Linked DNA regions of Homo sapiens: region 1 is linked to region 2. A link means that fine-mapping ties the variant in region 2 to the expression of a gene that starts in the linked region. Tissue or cell type: lung. Region 2 holds a variant in brackets; the other region holds the start of a gene. All regions are shown on one strand. Distances are between the middles of the regions.

What was found. PIP is the estimated chance that this variant, and not a neighbour inherited with it, causes the effect.
Region 1: it holds the start of NRIP3, and the variant in region 2 is fine-mapped to the expression of NRIP3 in lung (TOPMed, PIP above 0.99).

Annotation. Positions count from the first base shown.
Region 1 is chr11:8,998,763-9,008,812 of GRCh38, forward strand. NRIP3 (nuclear receptor interacting protein 3) reads right to left here and starts at 5,239. Exons shown (of 7, transcript NM_020645.3): 1 at 5,000-5,239. The coding sequence starts at 5,173. It overlaps NRIP3-DT (NRIP3 divergent transcript), which reads left to right and starts at 5,326. Exons shown (of 3, transcript NR_183663.1): 1 at 5,326-5,781. RefSeq lists an enhancer at 4,416-5,335.
Region 2 is chr11:9,043,944-9,054,398 of GRCh38, forward strand. It overlaps SCUBE2 (signal peptide, CUB domain and EGF like domain containing 2), which reads right to left. Exons shown (of 23, transcript NM_001367977.2): 11 at 9,694-9,816; 12 at 9,156-9,272; 13 at 8,803-8,889; 14 at 6,663-6,767; 15 at 4,000-4,155; 16 at 3,413-3,619. The region is part of intron 1 of NRIP3-DT (NRIP3 divergent transcript); the gene reads left to right. Among named protein-coding and RNA genes, the nearest start is that of MIR5691, 41 kb to the right of the region's middle. RefSeq lists an enhancer at 3,095-3,596. The variant A/T (reference allele first, on the strand shown) is at 4,267.

The DNA of each region.
Region 1 (10,050 bases), 45 kb before region 2:
TGTTCAAAAATCAAACTCTTCATTTTTTTTTTTTTTTTTTTTTTTTTTTGAGACAGAGTCTCGCTCTGTCGTCCAGGCTGGAGTGCATTGGCACGATCTCGGCTCACTGCAAGCTCCGCCTCCTGGGTTCACACCATTCTCCTGCCTCAGCCTCCCGAGTTTCCCGAGTAGCTGGGACTACAGGTGCCCGCCACCAGGCCTGGCTAATTTTTTGTATTTTTTAGTAGAGATGGGGTTTCACCGTGTTTGCCAGGATGGTCTTGATCTCCTAACCTCGTGACCTGCCCGCCTCGGCCTCCCAAACTGCTGGGATTACAGGCATGAGCCAGCGCGCCCAGCCCGCAAACTCTTCATTCTTATTTGCCATCCTCAACCTGCTCCCCGCTGCAAGTCTTATCCACTTCAGCAAGTGATAATTCTGTTCTTCCAATGGCTAAGTTAAAAACCTCATGGTCTTCCTTGATTACTCTTTCACTCTTAATCCAATGCATCAATTACATTTGTCAGCTCTGCCTTCAACATATATCCAGAACCTGATCCTTCCTCCTCTCCTTCACAGCTTATCACACTGCTCTGAGGTACCATCAACTCTCACTTCAATTACTGTATAATAGCTTCCTAATCAGTCTTCCTGCTTCATCTACTCTTGCCCCTTTACAGTGTAACCCACATAGTAGCCTGAGTAGTCTTTTTGTAAAATAAGTCGTATGTATCATATCACCCCTCTGCTCAAAATATTCCACTCGTTTCCAATCTCAGGTTAAAACCCAAATGCATAGGTATGCGCTGAAAAGAGTGGAAAATAAAAAAAATAATAATTTTAAAAAACCACCCAAATGCCTGCACAATGGCCTCCTACTACATCTCTGATGTTATCTTCTATCACCCTCCCCCTTGCTCATTTTGATCTAGCTACACTGGTCCTCTTACAGTTCTTCAGTTATATCAAGCACAGTGACACCTCAGTCCTTTGCACTTGCTGTTCCTTCTGCCTAGAACACTCTTCCCTGAGAAACTTTGCTCCTTAATTCCCTTCAGTATCTCCTCAAATGTAATCTTATCAGATAGGCCTTGCCGGACAACCCTGTACAAAATAGCCAGACTCCACCCCACCCCAGTCACTGCCTTCCCTATTCCCCTTACCCTGATTTATTTTCTCCATAGAAAATATTTATTATTATTACCTTATATACATTTACTTAATTTTACTTTCTGCCTCCTTCCTCCCACAAGAATGAAAGTTCCGTCAAGGCAGGAACTCAGTTTTGGTTCACTATTATATCTCCAAAGCTTAAATTATTGCATGACATGTGTAGTAGGTACTCAATAAATATTTGTATATTAAATTAACTGATCTGTCCTTCCCTGCCCCCAACCTATAAACCTGTTTATAATGAGAAACTTTTCTGTCTTCCTATTTGTGTCTTAGCCCCTAGACTGTGTCCTGAACACAGCAAGTATTCAAATAATGTTTGCTATTACGAGGATGCAATCACGACTCTGCAAATCTTCAGTTTGTGCCAGATCTTGGTGTTATACTGGTATTTCACGCTTCTCTTCTAAGCCTCTGAAATTCTCCAGCCCATGATTTGTGGTGATATGGATAGCTAATCTATAGGGCACACCACACAGACCTGCTCTAATAGACAGAGATTCTGTTCAGGTATTTTATGGTAAGTTTGCTTTACTGTGTTCAACCATCTTTCCCCCAGCATCATTCCTAATTCTAGTCAGTTTTGAAAAAGCATTTAGCTATGATCAGAAGCAATCATATGTAGGAAAGAAAAACTCTATTGCCAGACAAGTAAGAATATGGCCTAATGCCTACAGGTAAGTATAATATCATTTAGGAAAGACAGCATATTACCACATAACATGACTGTTTTTAAAAATTAAAAAGTCCTTAGCACAATGAGAAAAACTTTTATGAACCTGGTAGCTAAAACAAGATAAATTACAATAGGCAAATTTCCAAGAACGGAGATGTTTTTCTCCAGCTTCACTGAGTTAAAAAAAAAAATCAGGGCTGGGTGTGGTAGCTCATGTTTGTAATCCCAGCACTTTGGGAGGCTAAAGTGGGCAGATCGCTTGAGACCAGGAGTTCAAGACCAGCCTGGGCAATATGGCAAAATCCCATCTCTACAAAAAATACAAAAGTTAGATTGGTGTTGTGGTGTGCACCTGTAATCCTAGCTACTCAGGAGGTTGAGGTGGGAGGATCTCTTGAGCCTGCGAGGTCGAGGCTGCAGTAAGATGTGACTGCAGCTGCATTCCAGCCTGGGCAATAGAGTGAGAACCCGTCTCTTAAAAAAAAAATCAAATATAATATTACTCACTCATATCTCTGGTTTTAGTTCTTAATCTAATACAGAATGAACAATACAAGATAAAAGGATAAAAGCAAAAGGGGCAGACAAAAATATAATTTCCACAGAAGACTTTGTATCAGCCAACTCCAGATACACAGGAATAGGCAAAGGCACTTTCCTGGGGCCAAGAGAACATGACCCCCTTTGATTTCCTATGGTTGCCTTCTGCCAGTCCTAAAAGAGCTGGCAGGCTGGTATCAAGCAGTGAACATTACAGAAACAGCATAGTAAGAGGTAGATAATTCAGAAATCCCAGCGGTATATTCAAATATAGGTTGCTGGTATGAGGAAAAACAACCTACAATCTTCACAAACCCAAAAGTCAATAACAACTAATTTCTCCTCTCTCTTCCTTATCTCCCTCTGATGCTATCCTCTCCCTTTTCTTGGACTCCTTCTATCGAGATTATACTATAAACTACTCCAAGTAAGAACTATTCAATTAATTTTAACATCCTCCAAATTTCCCTTGCAGTGAGAGAAAATTGAGTCAACACTGGTCTATCCCACATGTATTTATAAAGTAAAAGAATAATAATGTACTTCTAAGGTCACTTCTAAGATTGTACTAAGGCTGCAACAACAGTTCCAAGAGAGTTTAAGCATGCTGCCTCACCCCAGCGCTTGCGGCTCTCCTAGCCCTACCTCGGTCTGCCTTGGTTTCTGTAACCTGGCTGTTCTGTGCAATCACTTGTACATTATAGGTGTGAAAACAGTGAGAGAGGGAAATCAACTCCATGACGGTGGGGCACAGAAAGCGTGAACCATGATTCAGAGCCTTACAGTCAACTGTCATGTGTATGTGTCATACTCAAGGCAATATCCTGCTTCTTGAGGCTCCTTCCTCTTTGCAGCCTGCTGCCTGTGCTGTATGCTATCAGCCCTTTGTGACTCAACTGAGACAGACTAGAGTCAGAAAAGCGGATGGAATTCTTACACAGCATGAAGTAGTATAAGAAATCCTAGGCAGAAGGAAGTTCAGGTAGCTCTCAGGGCTAGGAAACTCCTCGACAACGAGGGACAACCAAATCCAGCATTTAAAAACTCTGTATTTTAATTCTTCTCTTAATATAATACTTCCTTCTTTATTGATTGCTGAGCATTCTAGGAACTAGGATAGGATTATTTGGCCTGAAGGAAAGAATACTTCTCGAACCTGATTTGTTAAATGAATCGAGATTGCTTTAAAGTGAAAGAAGGGAAAAGAGAGTTATCTCTTTTGCAGGAGCACATTTCAATCACTTATCACTCTGGGTTAGCATAAATCAGATAAACTATCCTGTGGGTTGTGCAAAAAGCAAAACAAAACAAAAAAACACAACTTGTAAAAAAAACAGAGCAAGATAACTGAAGTAGACAAACTCTGCACAGAAGTAACTAATGGCAGGGAGGAGAAAAATTTTTGTATATTATATTATACTGTGTATAATATAATGTACCTGTGTATCATTAGAGCTGTTAAATTAAAAAAAAAAAAAAAAAAAAAAGGAAATGGATGCAGAAGCTCTGCCCTCCTGGGGCCAGAAATGGCAATTTCAGTGAACTAGGGCCGACAACCACATCCAAAATTAAATATTTCAAAAGCTTAAAATAAAAAATACTAGAAAAATTATGCAGAGCACCTATTTCATTTGTTAAAAGACATTTAATTAGTGTTTCACATATTACCACCCAAATGAATAAAGCGATTGTGAAATTCAAGAAAACAATCAAACTACAAGAAAACTCCAGATAAAACTACAAAGTTAAACATAAACTTGGCCCAGGACCACTACAGTGGCTGAGGGATGACAAATACAGTTCTTTATATTGGTAACCCTTAGCCATCCATCCCATTCTATAGAAAGAGGACAGTACCATCTTTGACCCCAGGCCCCCTGTCCTGAGGTGCTTCTACTTAATGCCAGGAACAACTGTGCTAGAAAAAAAGACTGCACCCACCCCAGCTCCAGATGCACACATTAGCTGGTCGGTGAGATGCAGCAGCCTGGCTTCCTCCCTCTACCCACTCCTTGGGGGCGGGGCTGGAAGAGGAGAATGATGAAGAGATGTTGGGGGTTCAGGAAACCTTCACATTTGGCCCCTTTTCTCTCTCCCCACTCAGGATGGAAGGTCAAAGTTAGGACCAAAACTAGAGAAGTGGGTTTTGCATAGGGGGACAATGGATTCAACAGAAGTCCTCTGGATCTGGCAACTGTCAAAAAACCCTCTTTCCACTTCTTTCCCCCTCACGGAAAGCCATTAGGAATCACCTCTGTCTGGGTCATAGGAACAGCCACACAGCATAGGAGGCACAAGCCCCGTGAACAAAATTCGGTATTAAGAATAAGGAAAAAGAAAGAAGACCCGAGGGCAAGAGGGCAGGGCAGGACCTCTTCTTTCTACTGGAGAAGAGACATCCAGGGAGGAGGCACAGCCGAGGGGAGCGCAAGCTAGAAAAGCTACGACGGAATCCCCACCGAAACCGCAGCAGGGGTACTGGAAGGGGAGGAATCCGCGACGCAGCGACCGCGAGCCAAGGGCAGCGGCGGGCCGGGCCGTGACTCAGTGAAAGCCGCAACGGCCGGGCCTCGGAAAACGGCGGGCGCGAAGCCGCCGGGGCCGGGGCGAGAACGGCGGCGGGGGCTCACCATGTCCTTGGACGAGCCCAGCTTCTTGAGGCCGTCCAGGGGCAGCAGGTCGGCGGAGTCCTTGTGGATGAACTGCACCGCCTGCTTCATCCGGCGCTGCTGTCGCAGTGACGCCGCCTCCCGCATGTCGGTCTCCTTGCGGCCGCCCTCAGTGAGGAGCCCTGAGTAAAACATCGCTGAGGCGCCGGCGGCCCGGTAGCCCACAGCCCCCCGGCAGCCTCAGCCTCGAGCTCCTCCAGCGCCGCAAGGGCCCCGAGCCGCGCCTTTTATAGCCGAGCGTGACGTCGCGGGGAGCAGCCAGTGCGCGCGCGGGGGGCGGGGCCGGCACAGAGTCCACGCCCCGCGCGGCTCCCTCGCGTCCCGCGTCCCGCGTCCCGCGTCCCCTGCTCACCCGGTGGCAAAGCCGGCGAGGAGGCGGCGGCGCTGGTGGGGACTGACCCGGCAGTCCGAGAATCCACCGCGGCCTTTTCACCCAACCGCCCCCTCCTGCGTGGGGGCCCCGCATCCCCTGGACTGGCGTGGGCTCTGGGGCCCGATGCCCTGGCAGCCCCGGCCATCTCTGCCGCTGGCCGCGGGTACCTGCTCACCTGTCCACGCCGTGGCCGACCCGGGGATCACCGACAGCCGGGCCATGCCTCGAGTCCCGCCGCCCGCGCCGCTGCTCGGCTTCTCAGAAACGCACCTCCACGCCGCCAGCCGGGGCTCCAGGGTCCACCGCCCGGGCCCGGAGGACTGGCGACTCCCTCCGAGGTTGGGAGCGCTCCGGATTTCTCCAACTTCAGGTCGGTCCCCACCCACCGGGCCACGTGACTGGGGAGGGGGCAGCCGGTGCAGGCGTGTGGAGGAGGCTTTCGGGACCTCCTCCCCCGGGCACCCTCTGCCTGCAGCCCGGCACCCGGCCCGCGTTTCCGAGCCGGGGGAGCAGGTGCAGTCGGAAGCCCGCGGGTGGGCGTGGGGCGGGGGAGTGGCGAGGGTCCCCCGCCTCCGCGGGAGCGCACGCGGCTGCGAGCCCTACACCTGCTCTCCGACCAAAGAAGCACCTGTTTTTCTCAATAAGTGCTAGGGCTTACCATCTAAAGGATCGTTCACCATCCCTCCAGCGTCCTTAGTAGGAGCGATTGGAACCCGTTTTTCTTCCTGAATAATCCATACTTTTAAGCCATTCTAATCGGGCCTTCAGGCATCCTGGATTCTGGTCTCGACATTGTGATTTGACACAAATCACGTTTTCACTCTGGAAACCACAACTACTCCCTCCACCCCATCACGCAGGAGCAGACCTGGATAAGAAATATGTGCACTCTGCAAAGAACCAATGATAAAAGTAACAATATCGACGCTTACTGAGCCTTTACTATGTGCCAGGTACTAGACTAGACACTTAAAATGCAGTATCTCATTGGATCCTGGCAACAGCTTGTAAGATAGTATTCTCATCACCCCCATTTTACAGGCAAATACCTGATACCTTCTGTCTGGCCTCCTGAATGCTCCTTGGTTCCATTCCAATACGTTGTTCACTGTGCTGCCAGAGTAATCTTCTCAAACGATAAGTGTGATCATCTCACTTCCCTGCTAAGAGCACCTCAAAAGGCTTCCTATTGCTCTTAGGAGAAACCCACATTCTTGCATGGTCTGCCTAGACCCTGCATATTCACTCTGTACTTCAGCCTCATGGGCCTTCTTCCAGTTCCTTCCAGTCACCTGTTGCCAAATGGCCTGCCTTTGACTGTCCTGTTCCCTCTGTGTGCAGTGCCCCCTCCTACCCTCTTCAGGAAACTCCTATGCTTCTTCCAGACCTCAGCTCCATTATCATTTCTTTAGGAAAGCCTTCTCTGACCTTCCAGAGAGAGTGAAGTCTCTCTAATTATATACTATCTATCTCTTGGGCATTTGACACTTTCTGTGGGGGTAGGGGTAGGGGGGTACTGGTTGTTGGATTAATATTTGTCTCCTCCACTGATTGGAACCTCCAGGAAGGTGACTGAACCCATTTTTTGCTTAGCATTGATGCCCTAATATGCAGAGGGTTCTCAAATACTAGTGAAAGGATGGCAAAAAGTTAAGGTCGTACCAAAGAAATCAAGTGGTAAAGCTGGCATTTACTCCCAGAACCTGTGCTGGACTACCTAGACCTGGAGAGACTGGGTTTGGCCTCATGAAGCTGCTTCTTTTACTCTGTTCTGCCTTCAACACTTGCCCCAGTTTCAAAGACTGTTTGTGGGAAAACAAATACAGAAGGCTGCTCACTTGGCTTCAAGGAAGCCCCAGGGCTGGATTCCTCCCTGTGTGCCCATCCCCTACTTTCCCCTACACACGGAGGACAGAGTCTCTAGGAGACAGGTGGGATTGCTGTTCACCTTCCAGTCCCCTGGCACACTTCCAGCAGTGAACAACAGTGGCTGCCCTGGCCCCTTCTGTCCCATCACCTGGATCCCTGCCTGATCACTCCTCCAGGTGCAGATCACCCAGGGAACAGTGAAAGTCAGCTTTGCCTTGTCCGTCTAGGAGAGGTGCCTCTGAGTTTGGCAAAGCATCAGGGCAGGTCCAACAGTGAGGGCCCCTAGGGCTTGGGCTGGGACAGTGACTTTCCTCAGGGAGGAAGCCAGGCAGGTAGACACTCTCGGGGGGAGTTGGAATCCCCACTCTCCAGGCTGCTCAGCTCAGACCTGCAGCCTTTTTTGCTGAGGATGTCCTGACAGAAGAAAGGGGCTCTTTTCAGAGCTAGATCCCCCTGGGAACACCAGGAAGCTGAATCTCTCTAGTTGAACTGGAATTTGCCCATATCAAGTGTTGCTGAAAAATAAATGGTGCCCGACTGGAACTGGGAATCTTTTTGTGAATTCAGAGCCCTTTGGTGTAGTGGGATTTGTGTTCTGCAGTTGGGTCTGTGGCTGCAATACCTGTTGGTCCCCTCACCTGTCTGAGACCTTCCTTGGACAGACTGATACCATCACTGCCCTCAAGGTTCAGTGTGGTGAGGCCAGCTCCTTCCTCCCCCCACACATTATGAGTATTCGCAGACTACAGACTGCCTGCTTAATTTAAGGAGAGTTATCTCTGGGTGGTTTATCCTGTTTGCCCAAATGACTTTGAGTAAATCACTTCCTACCTCTGAGCCTCAGTTTCCATATCTGTAAAATGGATGTAGTGAGACTGCATATACAATTGTGCTTTGTAAACTCTCTAGGGCTGTACCAACAGAAAAGATTATTATTAATTCTCCATATAGCCAATCAACGTCCCCTGCCTCATTGACCCATCTTGGAGGAAGTAACATACAATATGGTTGTTAAAAACACAGGTTTTGGAGTCTAATACACTAGATTTGAATCCCTGCTCTGCTGCTTACTAGCTATGTGACTAGTTAGTTACTGCACCATTGTGAGCTTTCAGTTCTTCATCTAGAAAATTGTGCCAATATCTCTACTTCTCAGGGCTGCTGTGAGAAATAAAACGATAGACAGTGTAATACATTGGTCATGTAGCATAGGCTCAGCAGAAGGTAGCAACCATCATTACCTGGAACAACTTCAGGAAAAACTGTAGGTTGCAGAACCCTCGAATTGGGGCTGGCCTATCCTTTCTCCAGGCTTCCCTACAGAGCTTCAGACATGAAGCCAGACTTGAGTATCTTACCCTATCCCTAGAGCAGAGGCCTGCTGAGGCAGGGGCTGGCCAGCTCTCTTCCTCTCCTCAGTGTCTCCAGATTCTGGACTTTCCATGTGCAATGGCTCTATCCTAAAGTTCTCTGCATCCTCCCTTGGCTGTTATAGAAGACCTGTACTTGAAAATCATACTAGAAAATCCAGTACTGTTTCAGTGTTAGAATGCTATTCACGTTATTCTTCTTATAAGTGACAGATACCCAGTTGAAAATTTCTTATGTGAAAATGCAAATTTTTGGTCCCCTTAATTTAAAAGTGCAGGGCTTCAGGCATGGCTGGATCCAAAGACTCAAATGACATTATCACTGTGTTTCAGCTCTGCTTTCCTCTGAGCTGATGCCCCTGTAGGCAGACCCTTCCTGTCTGATGGCTATTTGTGACTCTAGGCTTACAACCTATTCTCCTAGCAACCCTCTTTTGGGTCTTCAGCTAACAGAGAGGCCTTTAAGAATGAGAAACAGGATGAGTGCTGAGGCTTGGAGGCCTAAAAAGTAGAGGAGAAGAGCAGAGGATAAAGGGGAGACTGCCAAGAAATTTTCCTCCCCATTCCCTCCCTACCCATGCATATTGCCCTTGGCCATACCCTGAAGTCAGAATGGCCACTCCTAGGACCCTCATCATGCACCACCCCATCCTTATAGCTGTAGGATCCCTTTCCTCCTCAGATGTCCTCACCACTACCCCAACCCCCTTTGGCAGGAAGATTCTTCGAACAGCTATCCAGATGTGTGCCAGGATCTCTGGCTACATGGTACCCCTGACTTGGCACCCAGCTCTAAAAACTGTGTCTGCTTTGGCAGTTAAAGCAAAGATAAGAGATATTTCTGTCCTCTTCCTTCAGAGTGATTGCCAACATCACCATGACCTCAAGAAACAGGGCTGATGGCAGCCCTGCTGGTGTTTTCCAAAGTTGCCTGGGTCTTTTGGATCCATTACAGTCACCAGTGATTTGGTTTCATTTCCCGGGATGAGAACAGGCTTTGACCTCAACTCAGACAGCAAAAGAGGAGAAATAATGGAAAGAAAACAAACACCAGTATCTGAAGGACGTGTGTCTGGTGGAAGTGGGGAAGTGAGGAGTCTAGGCTTAGCTTTGAATCTGGTTCCACCCCTTGCTTGCTATGGGACCTTGGCCAAGTTACTGAAGCTCTCTGAGCCTCAGTTTATCCATCTTGCAGGGTTCTGTCTCATTTGAGTGAAATAATATATAAAGGCACAAAGTGGGCTCTCAATAAATATGTCCTGTTCCTCTTTCCTTCCCCTCTCCAACATAGGTAGAGAACCCAGAAAAAGAGTGGCCCTTCTGAGCCTAGTGGGAAACTCTGCAGTATAGAAACAAGAACTCTGAAGATGGCAAGTCTCTCAGAATACAGCAAAGCATAG
Region 2 (10,455 bases):
TATCTATTAAAGTTTTAAATATGCAAGTTCTTTGAGTCGGCCATTGTACTTTTGCAAGTCTATCCTTCAGAAATATTGGCCATGTGTACAAAGAATGATATTCATTGAGCACTATTTGCCATATAAAAATTAGCAATAACTTCTATGTTCACCAGTAGGGGTAGGGCTAATCAATACTGGTGTCTTCAAACAAATACAGCCTGGGAAGCTGTAAAAGAAATGAGGTTGCTCCGCTATCATGTTAGAGAGATGTTCTTGATCTAACTACAGTTAAAAACAACACATAGCACTATTCAAATTGTATTGATATTTGTTTTTTATTTTGTTAAGATAGGCTCTTGGTCTGCCACCCAGGCTGCAGTGCAGTGACACAATCATAGCTCACTGCAGCCTCGAACTCCTGGACTCAGATGATCCTCCCGCCTTAGACTCCCGAGTAGCTGGGACTACAGGTGCTACCAACCAACATAGTGAGACAGAGTGTCACTATGTTGCCCAAACTAGTATTGAACTCCTGGCCTGAAGTGATCCTCCCACCTCGGCCTCCCAAAGTGCTGGGATTACAGATGTGAGCCACTGCACCCAGCCTATTTTTTTAAAAAGATATATCTATTCATACGTAAACCTACAGTCTACTTTCAACACAGTAGCCAAAGTTATCTTTTGAAAACATGTCAGTTACTCCTATGCTCAAAGCCCTCCACTGGCTTCCTTTCTCATCAGATTCGGGATCAGGGTCCTCCCTGGTTTCGAGTTCCCTCTGCTACTGCTCTGCCCTTGCTCTCCCTCCCTGCCTCTCTCAGCTCTCATCCTTCTGGCCTTCCTTCCAGTACCTTGGGGTTTTCCTATTTGTTGTTCTCTTTGCCTGAAACTCTCTTCCCCCAGATATCTCCATAGCTTGCTTCTTGCTGTCCTTTGCGTCTCTGCCCAAATGACACTTTGTAATGAGGCCTTCCCTGACCACAGTCTGCACTTTGGGGGAGTACGCTCCTCATCCCTCACCCCTCACCTTGGCCTGGCACTTTCCATTCCACTTCCCTGCAGCCCTGCTCTCCATATCCCTGTCGCCCTCTGCTACATGATAGTAGTATCTTTCCTCGTTTATTGGTTGGTTGTCTACCTTCTTCCTCTAAAATTGTAAACTCTGTGAGGGCTGAGATGTTTGCGTGTTTCTTTATTGCTGGATTCCTGATATCTAGAATGGTACCTGGCACACAATTGGTGCTCAATAAATATTTATTGAATGACTATATAAAATTTCCTTTTTATATGTGCATAAAAACAGTTGTGGAAAAATCACACAGCAAACTATAACAGTGATTACTGCTGGGGAGTTGGATTAGGGAGCTGTGGAGAGAACTTTCATCTTTACTGTATACATTTCTGTGCCATTTGAAACAGGCACTACTTTCATAATTGAAAACTAAATTTAAAATATTTAAAAAGATAAACATAATGGTTCCATCTCTCCCCCCAGGAGAGATGGAAGTGACTCCATTTTTCTTTTTTTGAGCTCTTTTCTGCAAATACCGAAAATCATTTCTAAAAGGAACTATCCTAAGCTTGTCTCCACTGTACCATCCAGAGCTCAGAAAACATCAGCAAGCCTGGTCTTTATGAAGTCCTAACACCATCAAATAGACCAGGACTAGAAGACAGACAGACAGACACACACACACACACACACACACACACACACACACACACACACAGCCTTGTCTATGCCACATGCTGCCTTCTGGATAAAAAGCCTTTCTAATTAACACACCTGACACTTCTTTACACCCACTTCCTCCCTCAGCAGCAAGAGGGAATGTCACTGGTAACTGCTTGAGCCGTTTTCTCTGCATGGTAAAATCTTCAACATTGCTGTCAGACCTGGACCTGATTTGATGCTGTGAGGGCTACAGAATTCATCCAGTGTTTGGGAGCTCCTGAGACAAGACACATTGGCTCCCCTAGAAACAAATCAAACCTAATTTAGCATGACAAGCATCTCAGGGACACATTCACACACCACCACAGCTACACAAACCCTCTACTGAGTGTCTTTCTTTCTTTTTTTTTTTTTTTTTTTTTTTGAGACGGAGTCTTGCTCTGTCGCCCAGGCTGGAGTGCAGTGGCACGATCTCGGCTCACTGCAGCCTCCAACTCCCTGGTTCAAGGGATTCTCCTGCCTCAGCCTCCCGAATAGCTGGGAGTATAGGCACGCGCCACCACGCCCAGCTAATTTTTTGTATTTTTTTAGTAGAGGCGGGGTTTCACCATGCTGGCCAGGATGGTCTCGATCTCCTGACCTCGTGATCTGCCCGCCTTGGCCTCCCAAAGTGCTGGGATTATAGGTGTGAGCCATCATGCCTGGCCCCGAGTGTCTTTCGTAGGCTGTTGTGGTCATGAAGCCCCTGTTAAGTAACTCCTGCTCCTTATCCTTGGGCCTTTACTCCCCAGGAACATACCCATGGTAGTATTAGTGATACCCTCACTGGGAGCCAGTCCATGGGGCCCTTGACATTAGGTTTTCTTGACTTTTTAACTGGCCACAAAGACTCCCTGGCCCGTCCGTGAGGCCTAACCCCAACAGGATAGCAGACGGGGGAGGGGTGCAGTGTAACCCTGAGAGGCCAGGAGGGCCCTGACAGTTTCTGCAACTCATCCTGGAAAGTAGGGCAGCCACAGCCAACTCTCCCCACTATTTTAGTACGGAAACTGGAACTCTTAGAATTTTAAATGAGAACAGATCAACCAGCTGGGCTGTTTTTACTTTTTTCCACTTTGTTTCTTTTTAAGAGAATCAGCTGGAATGAAAATCAAGACTATCTGGAAACCAGCCTCTTGTAGACAGTTACACTTGATTTTGCACTTGATTTTCACTAAGTTTTGGCAAAGCAACAAATTTGAGCTGTGGGCCTAAGGCTGACAATTCTCTGGAACAAGTGCCCCTGGATTCAGCTTTGCTTACTTAGAAATACAAATGGGATTCTTACTCCTTAGCTAAGCTTGGGCCTCATGATTCTACTGATACTTAGGAAAAGGACATCAGTTTATCCTGGAGAAATCTAATTACTGAAATTCACCCTGCTTGGGACCAGAGCACAGGCTTTGGAATCAGAACATCAGCCACTTCTTTCCTGTTCCTCAAGTCAACCAACATTTTAGTGCCCACCACAAGCCAGATACTATGCCAGGTGCTGAGGACAGGGAGATGAATGAGGTCAGTCTCACTCCGGGGAGCTCTGGGCCTAGCAGGGACGACAGACACAAACGCAACAGTTACTGAAACAGAAGCACTGCCCGGAGTGTTCTCTAAAGTGAGCCCTGAGAAGGGAGGATGGGCCAGACTTGCCTTCGGTTACCCTGAGTGTTTATGGAGCCCAAGGCTGTTCTGTTAGCAAGAATGTCCCAGGCCACTCACCACATTGGTTTTCTGCATGACCCTGGCCCACTCCACAGGACTCTGCCTGGCGTTCAGATGTTCTGGGAGGCTTTTTAGCCACGTCGAGGTTCATGCCTGAGAGCTGGAGGTGAAACTGCTCCCTGTGGACGGCCTTTCTGAGCGTGCGGATGGCTTTACGGAGCCGCTTCTCGGTTCGCTTTACGATGCAGCTCAGGTCACAAGAAGCTACAGAAACAAGAGGGACAGCAGTGCGGGAGGAGATCAGGCTGCAGCGTGTGACAATGGCCAGATCAACTGCAGGCCCTACCAACACCCCGAGCTCCCTGTGGACCGAATGGGGAGAAACCTGGAGGGGGCACCTAGCAGGCTGGGCAGCATTTGATTCAAACAGAAATTTGTGGATCAGAATGGTAGCTTTGGGTTTTTATGAAGCAGAGAAAACCATCAGGTTCCAAACCAATTCAGTTTAGTTTCGGGGTGAAAAAAAACAGGAGATACTTCAGTGTTTGCATTACTTTTCCCCCAAGAATAATAAAAAGTGAAAGGCAAAGAAATAAGGAGCAAGCCGTGAGAAGCCTGGCAATGCAGACTGTTTTCAAACCAACCTGTCACCTCCTTTTGGTTAGTTTCAAGCTCAAACTCAACAGTGATAAACATTTCCTTAGGGGTGCTTGGTCGGCCAGGGGCTCCTGGGACTTGCTTGCCAGAGCTGCATGTAAGGTTTACGTAGCGGAAGCTCTCTTTTACTGAGCTGTGCTTCTCTGTATGAAGAAACAAAATTATCGGAAGCCAAATCCTGGCAAAGCACTCAGCTGAACATTTGCTAGAGCTCAGTAAACATTTCATTAAAACAACTCTCAAGGGACTAAGTG[A/T]TTATCTCCAGATGCCAAGACACTGCAAGCCCTTAACTTGGAGCACAACGACATTTTAATGTTGAAGAGCTAGCATTGCCTCCTATATAACTTTACAATTTAGCTCTTGAAAATTCTTTTCATGAATAAATGGGAGATGTTTCCGACTGACTAGCCACATATGTGGAAGACAAGAACCAGGGATTGTCTTGCATTCCTTACTGACGGTTTGCTAACGTGTGCTTACACTCTCACAGTTGGTTTGCATAAAGCTGGATGTGCCGAGCAGGGGCTGAGGCTTCAAATAAGGAATGAGCACAAGAGTGGAAAGGAAACCAACTACTGCTTTCAGGCAAACTGACCTTGGAGTCATTCTAACCTGAAAGGAAAGCTGGAACACCCGTCAGCAGTGATGTCTCATTTTTAAATAACCAGGAGCAATAAATGGTACAAAGCATCAACAGAACCTAACAATATCATGAAGGCATCTAGGATGAGAGTGGAAGTGTTGCATGACAGGGCTTTGCACATCCTTCTTCCTGACTTGGCTGTCTCCCCTCTCACCATGGTTTCCAGTGAATCTGTTAACCCTCACCAAAGAGCAGGTCCACATATCATCCACTCCATGAATTTGTCTCTATTTCAAAATCTTTATTGAAATGAAGTATTGCCTGTATCAGATTCTTCTTTAACATTACAAGGACATTCAAGCCATAGGTCAACAGGGGCCACAGGAAGGAGGCAGATTTATTTCTTCTCTACATTTTTCCCCTAAAGATTTATCTTACTTTTTCAAAAGGGTAACTTCAGATCTTAAACTGAACAGATTCTCATTTTAAATCTTTTTCCCTTTCGATGTTTCCATATATATTTTTTTAACTTTTCATTTTGAAATAAGTAGATTTATAGAAAAGTTGCTAAGATAGTATAGAGTTCCCACATAACCTTCACTCAGTCTCCCCTAACGTTAACATCATACATTTATCAAAACTAAGACATTAACACTAGTACAATCCCATTAAGTAAACTATAGGCCAAGTCTATTTTTATCATTGTATTTATTTCATTTTTTTGAGACAGGGTCTCGCTCTGTCGCCCAGGCTGGAGTGCAGTGGTGTCAACACAGCTCACTGCAGCCTCAACCTCCTGGGCTCAAGTGATCCGCCCGCCTTGGCCTCCTGAGTAGCTGGGACTACAGGCACAAACCACTAGGCCCGGCTAATTTTTTTATAGTTTTTGTAGAGATGGGGTTTTGTCATGTTACCCAGGCCGCTCCTGAACTCCTGAACTCAAGCAATCTGCCTGCCTTGGCCTCCCAAAGTGCTGAGATTACAGGTATGAGGCACCACAACTGGTTCAAATCTATTTTTAAGCAATGGCCCCTCCCTTCACCCCTGAGGTTTAAAAGTATAAATGCTCACTATGGTTAATTTGGCAAATGCAGAAAAAAAATTAAAATTACCCATGCCTCCCACCCAGATGTAACCACTACTAATGATAGGGTGAGTTTTCTTTTTGTTTCTTCTACCACAGTTTTTCTTACACAATTTGGATTGTATTAGATATACAAAATGTTTCTCTCCTGCTTTACATCTCAGCATTATAACAAGACCATTTTCCTGTGTCATTAAACATTCTTTGAAAACATAGAATTAATAGCTGCATAATATTCCATCAAATGGAGGTACCAAGTTTCTTAAAAATACTTACCTAAAATAGGCAGTCAAAAGTGACTAGAGTGAGCTTTAGGTTTATTTGTCTGTGTGATTTGAGAGTAGATTGGGAAAAGAAGCCTCCCTAATACATGAATCCTGATCCTTTTTATTTTTAATTTCCAAAAGAATTCTATAAAATAATACTGGAAATGTGTGCTGGGAAAGAAAAAGGAATGTTAGATTCTGCTCTTCTCAATAAGGCCAGTTCTACTTGGATGGTATTTGCTTTGCTGAAGCCAATGGGGTCACCGCTTCCAAAAACTAGACCCAGCAGGAAGGCTGGATATTAGATCTTTGTTCATCAAAGTTATCCTTTCTGAGCCAAACCTTTTTTCATTTCTTTGGCTTATATTTCAAGCAAAATCTGAGATCTAGAAAATTTAACCCAATATGATCACAAATTGCTAATTCATCTGAAGCCCTTATTGACTTCTGTGAACTCGTGGGTTTCCCCAGAGCCTCACCAACTATACCATGCAAAGGAAGCCCCGAAGTGTGACCCCAGAACTATACAAGCATGCTAGGTTATGCTCTTCTTCCTCTTGGGATGAGTCCCTGGAAGTTGGGGATGGTTCAGTTCCATCTGCAGTGTGCTTGGATCGGCTGGACAGCCCCTGGCCCCCATGGACCTCCAGCTCGGCTGGCTGCAGGCCCCTTCCCACATGCAGGCAAGCTCCCTACACCAACCACCTGATTCCATACCTGGTAGTGCTGGTCGCAGACCCTCGGGAAACAGCTCAGCATTTTTCAAACTACACTTGCCTTCATTTAGCTTAAAGGTTACACTTGTCCTGATGGTGGTGACATCTTCAGAAAGAAACAAGTGAGAGATGTTACCTTCAGAGGCAAAGGAATGGAGACACCAGATGGGAAGCAGCAAGCTGTCCATTGGTGGCTTCCACCACACACAGCACACCCTGAGACCCTCTCCTACCCTGAGGCTAAGAGTGGCTTGGATCATGGAGTGCCCATTGCCCTGGACTGGGGCCACCAGGAGCCTCCTAAAATTGCAGTTACCCCCTCATGTGAGAGGCAAATCCAGTGTTCAAATAAAACAGAGGCCAGCCTGGCGAACATGGTGAAACCCCATCTCTACTAAAAATACAAAAATTAGCCGGGCATGGTGGCACATGCCTGTAATCCCAGCTACTCGGGAGGCTGAGGCAGGAGAATTGCTTGAACCCAGGAGGCAGAGGTTGCAGTGAGCTGAGATTGCACCACTGCACTCTAGCCTAGGCAACAGAGTGAATGAGACTCCATTTCAAAAAAAACAAAAAATTATCTATCTATCTATCTATCTATCTATCTATCTATCTATCTATCTACCTACCTACCTATCTATCTATCTATCTATCTACCTATCTATCTATCTAAAACTGAGGGTCAAAAATAGCCTCCACGGTGAAATAGAACATGAAGTCATTTTTGTGCCTTCCTGAGAAAAAAAGGCCAGAATCCCCCAGTTCAAATCTGGATAAGCCCGTTTGGCGAAACGGTGAAGGGCAGATTCTCCTAAACAAGCCCGTCGTGGGAGGACAGGGCTGAGGGAGCTGTTGTTCCAGACACAGATGGCACTCACTAAACATGGCTAGGCTCTGAGGTCTGAGAGGGAGTGAGGGTCCCACTGTGAGAGCCTGATGTGCAAAATTCTGTTCTCCTCCCAGGGTCAGTCAGTCTTAACCATCCGGTAGGATCTGGAGTCAATGCCCTACAGCTCTTTTAAGTTGTGGTGAGAACTTGAGCAAGTTACTTAATCTCCCTAAGCTTCAGTGTCCTCATCTGTAAAACAGGCATAATTATAGTACCTATATTACCAGGCTGTTGTAAGGATAAAATGAGATAATGCATTTAAAAAAAGGAAAATGTTTAGCTCCTTGCCTGGTACGTAGTAATAACTGCATAGCCATTAGCTATTTGCTTGCCCCACCTTGGGGTGGCCCAAATCACCAAGGAACTGTCACTGAGGGATTTGGCGAAACAGACCATGATGTATGCCCTGGCTGAGTCCAAACGTGCATTGAAAGGGGCAGTGAAGGATAGTGCTTGAGACTCTGGACCCAGACTGCCTGGGTTCAAATCCCAGCTCCCCTATTTCTTATCTAAACCACTTTGAGTAAGTTATTTCACCTCTCTGAGCCTCAGTTTCTTCATCTGGTTAATGAGAATAATAGTAAAATTTCCTCAGAGGGTTGTAGTATGGCTTAAGTCAGTTAATTCGTGTACTATGGTAGCTGGCATATTTGAATTGCTCAGTCAACACATACAAGCTGTACTGTCTTGCTTTGAGTCTCTAGCTTTGCTCATATATGTAATATGAACATCAGGATGTAATATGAACCTCATTCAGGTGTTCCAATGACATAATGACAAAGGCGTCTATATCCGGGAGGACACAGCCTCCTAAAAACCTTGGATTTCATTCTTCATCTTTTGACAAACAGGAAAGGGTTTGGGCCCCTTTCTCGGCACAGAATCCCTGCTGCCCCTGCTTTGCCTATTTCTATCCACACCATGTGCTCCAGGCACATTCCCTGGGCCTTTGAGGTGCTCTGGAGTACAGCCTGCTGGTCCTGGGGTTCTGTGGGCCTCTGCCCAGGGTGATGACCCACCAGGGCTGACCACAGCCTCCTGACACACAGTGGCCACACAGTAAGTATCTGTTACATGGGAGAGTCACATTCCGGGCACCAGGACTGCAGGCAACAACACCCTGGAACATGCTCACAGCATCAAGGAAATTAACAGAAAAAAAACAAAGCCAATGTCCAAGAACAGCACCCCGTGAATGAAGCCCCTTGAACACAGTGAGCCCCCAGAGAGAACACGCAGATTTGGTAATTACCCCCAAAAGCAGAGTCATTTGATTTTTGTTGTTTGTTCCTGAGAGGAGAGGAAGAGCCACAGGTGACAGAGTAGGCCCCTTGCAGTCCTGACAGACAGAATGTCAATTGTCAAATGCATAAGCAAGGTCACAGGCTATCCTGGTAGCAGCTAAACTGTCCCCCCACCCCACTCCACATGGGCCACTAGAAAAATGCCCAGCATATGGGGTCTCGAAGCATGGACCTCTCAAAGCACGGTGGTCGGGGCATCTGGCGGAGGACCTGGAAGCCCTTTGAGGGAATCTAACACCTGGAGGCCAGAGAGGCCTGGCCCCAGTGTGAGGACCTGCCCCGGGAACTGGGCCCCACTCACCTGAAGAGAGGTGAATGCCAGAGTGACATCTGAGGAAGCACCCGTCTCCTCCACCACTCTTACCGCAGTGCAGGGACACACGGGGTGACACACTTGTGGGCAGGAGCCCCTTCACTTCTAGACAGGACAAAACAGACACTTACAGAAAGAGAAGGACATTTCCAAGTGTGACAAGGATGGTTGAGTCCCATGCACCAAAGGCCCCAAGAAAAGAAGGTAGAGCTCATGCCCAGCACAGAACATAGATGCTAGGCCTTATTCCCACCAAGGGAAAGGAGCCCCTGATATGCCATTTCTTCATGCAGAAAAGCAACCAGGAAAACAGAAGTGAGTTCCAACCTACACAGAAGCACAGAAGGAAACACCAAAGATCCGGCAAAGTATCTCCTGTTTTTGAACTATTTAAAGAACAGTTGCTGCAGCTGGTGGGGAAGTCAGTGGAGGGACGGTCAGGTGGGATGTGGGAGCACGCAGAGCTGCACTGCCTCTGGGCCAGTGGCCAGCCTGCTGTCTGAGTCTGTGCCTCGGTTCCCCTTACCCACACAGTCTTTTTTATTCCAGTGGAGCTTGTACCCAGGGTGGCACTGGCATTCATAGCTGCCCACTGTGTTCACACAGACCTGCTGACAGCCTCCGTTGTTGATGCTGCACTCATTGGTGTCTGTGGAACAAAATACTCTCCTGTCATAGCAGCCTGTCACTGAATGGGCTGACATGGTCCCTCCCTTGAGGAAGGAGCAGCAGGGGAGTCACAAGGTTGAAACTCACTAACCAAAGGAAGACACTGAATGCCTTTAGCATGAGCGCTCGGCACCAGCTGACTGCACACCCCACTCCCCACCCAGCAAATTTCCTGGCAGGAGGCTCAATAGGGCCTTCTCAAGCTCCACTCTTTTTTTTTTTTTTTTTTTTTTTGAGATGGAATTTTGCTCTTGTCACTCAGGCTGGAGTGCAGTGGCACCATCTCAGCTCACTGCAACCTCCGTCTCCCAGCTTCAAGCAATTCTCCTGCCTCAGCCTCCCAAGTAGCTGGGATTACGGGCATGTGCCAACACGCCTGGCTAATTTTTGCATTTTTAGTAGAGATGGGGTTTCACCATGTTGGCCAGGCTGGTCTGGAACTCCTGGCCTCAGGTGATCCACCTGCCTTGGCCTCCCAAAGTGCTGGGATTACAGGTGTGAGCCACCACACCCAGACTCAAGCTCCATTCTTGACCAATCCATTCCTCCATTAGCAACACTCAGAAGGATCCGCACTCTACTTTCAGATGTCCAAACTCAGACACTGCACAGACTTCTA